2 linked regions of the Homo sapiens genome follow. The protein of the gene in region 2 purifies or fractionates together with the protein of the main gene of each other region. This does not show direct contact. Each region holds a gene or a part of one and is shown on either strand. Other genes may lie near its edges.

What was found.
Region 1: the proteins of KIR2DL4 (region 2) and GINM1 purify together in Homo sapiens (affinity purification with mass spectrometry; one large-scale study listed by BioGRID and IntAct). This does not show direct contact.

The regions. Positions count from the first base shown.
Region 1 is NC_000006.12:149,576,375-149,579,874, reverse strand, and holds part of GINM1 (glycoprotein integral membrane protein 1 precursor), read right to left. Parts: intron 1,054-3,500; coding exon 902-1,053; intron 42-901; coding exon 1-41.
Region 2 is NC_000019.10:54,806,610-54,810,109, reverse strand, and holds part of KIR2DL4 (killer cell immunoglobulin-like receptor 2DL4 isoform c precursor), read right to left. Parts: intron 1,278-3,500; coding exon 1,227-1,277; intron 1-1,226. UniProt on the Homo sapiens protein: Receptor for non-classical major histocompatibility class Ib HLA-G molecules. Recognizes HLA-G in complex with B2M/beta-2 microglobulin and a nonamer self-peptide (peptide-bound HLA-G-B2M).

The sequences.
Region 1 (3,500 bases), on a different chromosome or scaffold from region 2:
TTAACTAAAATATCAATTTCAGTGACATCCTTTTGCTGAACCTGTGAAAGAAAATATAATTATTCTTTATTTTAAATAGTAGCACAGCCCCATAAAAATTTAAAAGCAAATTTTCCTCCCAGATTTATATAACTAAAACATGTGTCCTATTCAGACAATTACTCTTTTTTTTTTTTTTTGAGATGGAGTTTCGCTCTTGTTGTTGCCCAGGCTGGAGTGCAATGGTGCGATCTCAGCTTGCCGCAACCTCCGCCTTCTGGGTTCAAGCGATTCTCCTGCCTCAGCCTCCCGAGTAGCTAGGATTACAGGCATGCGCCACCATGCCCAGCTAACTTTGTATTTTTAGTAGAGACAAGGAGTTTCTCCATGTTGGTCAGGCTGGTCTAGAACTCCTGACCTCAGGTGATTCGTCCACCTTGGCCTCCCAAAGTGCTGGGATTACAGGTGTGAGCCACCATGCCCAGCTAACAATTACTATTTATTTCCCCGTACTCCCACTTTGGGGCACTTAACTTGCAACTTTAATAATATTCCTGTCCTGCTTTAACACTTACTATTATAAGCTTAATCTCGATTCTACTTCATTTACACACAGAGACTTCATTTACCATAGAGGAAATGGTAGCAGAACTATGAGCCAAATTGAATCTCTTTGCTTACTTTCTATTTAATAATGTCTGTACATTTTAAAGTGATACAAACATGTATGAATATGGGAAATTTTAAAAATACATTTCAAATGCTAAAATAAATATACAAAAATTCTAAATAATTGGATATAGGCAACATTAGGCACCTTCCTTATCAAGTCGGAAACAAATAAAATAACTGAACACATGCATAATATCTAGCACAAATCTAAATATCATTTAATTCCCAATTAATAAACATACTATCTTACTTGTTTTCCATCAATCTCTACTACCTCTTCTTGAATGACAATTAGTTGCAAACTGGAACCAGATGTCATAGGCCACTCATGAACTAAAATCCTTACACTGACAATTCCAAAATATTCTTTTTCCTCCAAATTTTCAAGATTTTCATTCTTCACTATAAAAAAAAAAGTAGTGACACCTTTGAACAAAGATTACCACCAAATCTGTGAGTGAGTGTGATTATTTTGATGACATTTACATGGAACAAGACAGTTGAAAACCCATTTCTTTGGCTTTCTTCATCCCTGACCTCAATGCTGTTTCAGATTTATTAAAAACAAAGACAATCTGACAAATCTTTATGACTGCTTACACTCATTTGAAAGGGTAAAATGTGTTGATCTTTAGACTTTGTATGAAATACCACACTAGCAACATCTTTCCTATTCTTTTTTTTTTTTTTTTTTTTTTGAGATGGAGTCTTGCTCTGTCGCCCAGGCTGGAGTGCAGTGGTGCCACCTTGGCTCACTGCAACCTTTGCCTCCTGGGTTCAAGGGATTCTCCTGCCTCAGCCTCCCAAGTAGCTGGGTTTACAGGCTTGCACCACCATGCTCAGCTGTTTTTTTGTATTTTTAGCAGAGATAGGGTTTCACCATATTGGCCGGGCTGGTCTTGCTAACTCCTGACCTCAAGTGATTCACCCACCTTGGCTGCCCAAAGTGCTGGGATTACAGGCGTGAACGACCACGCCTGGCCCATCTTTCCTATTCTTTTATACAGGTTGGCCATGAGGAACCAACATGGCACAACTATAAAGCCAGCCAGAAGATACAGCCAATCCCACGTTTTAACATAATAAGCACATACATTCATCCATCCACAAAATCCTGTGAGAGAAGATGCCCAAGCAGTAAGAACATTGAGTTTTTTAATCAATCCTTTCCCCGATTAGTGACTCATTACTATTAGAGAGAGCAGGAATGGGGAAAGAGGGTGGGGGAGGCCTGTCATTTCTCTCTGGTAATCGATAATGGGGTAGGACTAGCTATTGTCCACGTTCTTCTCTAGCTAGGAAACCTCTACTCCTGCTCCAGTAGAAACGGGGTGTAGTAGCTGCAGCTGGTTTACAGAGCCAACGGCTACTCTATTAAGGTAGAAGTGCTATCGAAAAAGATAAAACAACATACACCAATGCACCTGTCACAGATGGAGCATTTTATTTCTATCCCTCAAATAATCTGAAGATTTTTGCCAAACAGGAATCCAGATATACAATCTGAATGCACACCCAGCTGTTTAGTCTGATTCTGTGCATCTATAGGGCTACTTCCTTTGTCTGGAATATCTCAATATCTAGTTCATTAACTACTTACTATTACAAGATATACCTACCTATTCTCCCCTGCTTTAGTCCCCGCCGCCAAACCATTCAGACAACATGCCAAGCTCGTCTCACTGTGACGTGGTTTTCAGTCCACAGCCTCCTGCTCACACACCTTTAGTGGCACTTCTGTGAAGTTCCCGGTCCTCTCACTGGTCCTCCTCAGGCTCCTCATCTGGCCCCTCGCTGCTCCTCTCTCTAGTGTGCCTAATCCTTCATGCCCTTTGAAAAGCACCACTGTCAAAGGTACCCCCTCTCTCATGGTCCATCCCCGTGTTTTAACTGACCATTACCACCCGTGGGTCTCCTTCGTGGAACAGCAGGCGCTGTGTCAGCATGTCCGTAAGCCCAAAGACTAAGGTACAGGAGACTCAATGGGTGAGAAAATGCAGTCATAAAAATACACCCAAGTGGCAATTCTTCAGCCTGCAAATTTGGTACCTGATATAGTTTGGATGTTCCCCGCAAATCTCATGTTGAGATGTAATTCCCAATGTTGGAGGCGGGGCCTGGTGGGAGATGTTTGGGCCATGGGGGCAGATCCCTCATGGCTTGGGGTTACGGCACCCCACTGCCACTCTTGCTCTCTCTTGCTCCTGCTCTGCCATGTGAGATACTGGCTCCCCCTTTGCCTTCCACCATGAGTAAAAGCTTCCTGACGCCTCCTTAGAAGCTGAGCAGATGCTGGTGCCATGCTTCCTGTACAGCCTGCAGAACCATGAGCCAATTAAACCTCTTTTCTTTATAAATTACCCAGTCTCAGGTATTTCTTTATAGCAATGTGAGAAGAGCCTCATACAGTACCTCTAATACAGCATAAAATTAAATAAAAAACAACAAAGCCCTTCATATTGACTTCCTTACTGTGGTAGGCGGCTTTCAAAAATGCCCCTCAATGACCCTTGCCTCTAAGGAGTCAGACATTTCTGCAATTCCTCCCTCAAGTGGGCTGGACCTAGTGACTAGTCAGTTAGTTACCTATCTATCTATCGATCTATGAATGATTTTTTTTTCTTTTTTTGTTCTTTTGAAAGAGACAGCCTTGCTATCTTGCCTAGGCTGGTCTTGAACTCCTGGCCTCAAGTGATCCTCCAGCCTTAGCCTCCCAAATAGCTGGGATTACAGGCATGAGCCAATGCACACAGCCTAGTGACTCGTTTCTAACAAACAGAGCATAGCCCAAGTGATGGAATGTTACTGCCACAATTAGATTATTAATGGCTATGACTTCTGTCTTGCTA
Region 2 (3,500 bases):
CTCATGCACAGATGCTTCCCAATGGATCATTCATTTATTGGTCCACTGGTGCATTCATTTTCTGCCCTCCCATTTAATCCTTTGCAATATCAGTGTCCAAGAGCAGAGGCCAAATGCACCTTGTTTACCATTTGTGGAAAGGATAAGAATGCCGCCCCACCCCAAAATATTCCTGTCCTAGTCGCCATATCTTGTGAATATGTTATTTTACATGGAAAAAAGGAATGCAGATTGCAGATGGAATTACGGTTGCTAATCAGCTAACCTTAAAAGGAGGGTATCCTAGATGATTTTAGGGAAATTATGATGGATTATCTTGGTGTTTCCAATAGAATGCCAAAGTCCTTAAAAGATGAGGAAGAAGGCAGAGCAGCATTCAGAGAAAGAGGTGTGGACAAGGAAGAAGGGTCTGAGTGATGCCGTGTGAGAGGCGTGACCAGCCTTTGTGGACTTTGAGGGAGGAAGACGGGGACCAGGAGCCAAGGAATGTGGGAGCCTCTAGGAGCTGGGAAAAGTGAGGAAGCAGATTCTTGCCTGGAACATTCAGAGGGAAGGCAGCCTTGCTGTCACCTTGATTTTAGCCCAGTGAGATGATGCATTTCATACTTCTGAGCTACAGCACCATGAGATATTTTTTAAAAATGTGGTTTCCATCCACGAAGCTTGTGGAAATTTGTTATGGCAACATAGGAAAAGGTTCCACACTGCACAGTCTGAGCATGGGGCAGTGGCTGAACGAGTAAGTGGAAGTGTCATGTGCACGGATGAACTACGTTCTCTCTTACCGCAAAGCTCTTGTTCCACTAAGTCAACCAGGGTTGGATCATGACAGACAGGAGCTCATTCCTTGGCAAGTAGAACTTCTCTACAAATACACCACCCTCAAAAATGTTCCCCTTCCTTCCCCTTCTCAAGCCCCCAGGCATTTGTCCTCCCAGTTAGGAATGCAGGCAGAACAAACACAGCATTTTTCCTGAGAAGAATGTCTGATTTGCACTCATCCTTCTACCCTGAGGTCTCAGCAGCAGAAAATTAGAGATTAAGAGATTTCACTGAGCCCTGTGCTGGGCCCAGATCCCTTTCGCTGTTGGAGTGTCTGGGGTTCAGAGACAATGGAAGACAGGCCCACAATCACAGAGCTGGCAGGTGCTGAGCCAACGCTTGAATCCAAGGCTTCTACCTCCCCAGGTTTCCAAAAGCAGAGATAAGAGGGGTCCTTCACTTACCAGTTTTGAAGCTTGGTTCAGTGGGTGAAGGCCAACTACTAGAAGGGTTTCCTAGAACACGGGACAGGAGAGAGGTGTGGCAATGAGGATGCCTGTCTTCTACTCAATGGAAATCTTTGAGGTTGGTTCATGGCCAACATTCTATTATCTAATGTTGGGCCCTGGGAGTCCTGGCATCCCATTCTCCATAATCATTGTAGGTGACACCAACTATCTTGAGACTTCAAGGTATAAGGAGAAAACAGGAGCATCACACTACCTGACTTAAAAATATGTTACAGAGCTGTAGTAAGCAAAACAACATGACATTGGCATAAAGAAAAGCACATAAAACAATGGAGCAGAATGAAGAACACGGATGTAATCCACCCATTTACATCCAATGGACTTTGACAAAGGTTCGAAGAATCTACAATCTGGAAAGGACAGTCATTTCAATAAATGGTGCAGGGAAAACTGGATATCTACATGCAGAGGGATGAAACTGCACCTCTACCTCTCACCATACACAAAAATCAGATGAAAATGGATTAATGACTTAAGACCTGAATCCATTAAATGTCTAAAAGGAAACACTGGAGAAATGCTCCAGGACATTTGTCTGAGGGAAGACATTTTGTTTAAAACCTCAAAAACACAAGTAATCACAACAACAACAAAAAAATAGACCATTGGGATTATATCAAATCAAGCAGCTTCTGCACCGCAAAGGAAGCAACCAATGAAGTGAAGAAGAGACAACCCACAGAATGGGAGCAAATATTTGCAAACTATGCATCTGAGATGGGATTAATAACTAGAATATAAAAGAAGCTCAAACACCTCAATAAAACTAATAATTTAATTATAAAATTAGTAAAAGACCTGAACAGACATTTCTCAATGAACAAAACATACAAATGAACATATATACATTGCATATATGAAAAAGTGCTCAGTATCACTAATCATCAGAGAAATGCAAATGAAGTCACAATGAGCTATCATCTCACCCCATTACAATGGGTTTTATCTCAGAGACAGACAAAACAAATGTTGGCAAGGTGGTGGAGAAAGGAGAACCCTAATACACTGTTGATAGGAATGTAAATTAATACAGCCATTACAGAGGAGAAGAATATGGAAGTTCCTTAAAAACTAAAAAGAGATTAGGCACTGTGTCTCACGCTTGTAATCCCAGCACCTTGGGAGGCTGAAGTGGGCAGATCACTGGAGGTCAAGAGTTCGAGACCAGCCTGGCTAACATGGTGAAACCCCGTCTCTACTAAAAATACAAAAATCAGCCAGGCGTGGTGGCGGGCACCAGTAATCCCAACTACTCGGGAGGCTGAGGCTGGAGAATCACTTGAATCCTGGAGGTAGAGGTTGCAGTGAGCCCAGGTGGTGCCATTGCACTCCAGCTTGGGCAACAAGAGTGAAACGCTATGTCAAAAAAACAAAAAGCATAAAACAAAACCTAAAAAGAGAACATCCAGAGGATCTAGCAATTCCACTAGTGGGTGTAAATGCAAAGAAAAGGACTTCAGTGTATTGAAGTGACATCTGCACTCCCATGACTGTTCCAGCACTGTTCACAGTAGCCAAGATGTGGAGTCAACCTACCTGCCCATCAGTGGATGAATGGATAGAGAGAAAGTAGTACATACACACAATGGAGACAACTCATCCATACAAAGAGTAACGTCCTGTCATTTGCAGCCACATGGATGGACTGGAGGTCATTACAAGGATTGCCATTTCTTACTCACATGCAGGATGTAAAAGGTGGACCTCATGAAGGTAGAGAGTAGAATGGTGGATACCAGAGGTTAGGAAGGAAGGGGTGGAGGGTAACAAAAGAAGAATATAAAAGTATTTATTTATTTATTTAGAGACAGAGTCTCTCTGTGTCACCAGGCTGCAGTGCAGTGGCATGATCTCAGCTCACTGCAACCTCCTCCTCCTGGGTTTAAGCCACTCTCCCGCCTCAGCCTCCCAAGTTGCTGGGATTATAGGCGCCTGGCACCATGCCTGGCTAATTTTATTTTTTTTGTCTTTTTAGTAAAGATTGGTTCCCCCATGTTGGCCAGGCTGGTCTCCAGCCCCTGATTTTAAATGATCCACCTGCCTTGGCGTCTCAAAATGCTGAGATTACAGGCATGAGCCACCGCACACAGCATATAAAGGTATTTATGATCCCTAGATTTTACACTTAAAAATGGTAAAGTTGATAAATTATATAGGTATATTTAACCTCAATCAGCATTTTTTCAAAGGAAAAGAAAAAGTGTAGGG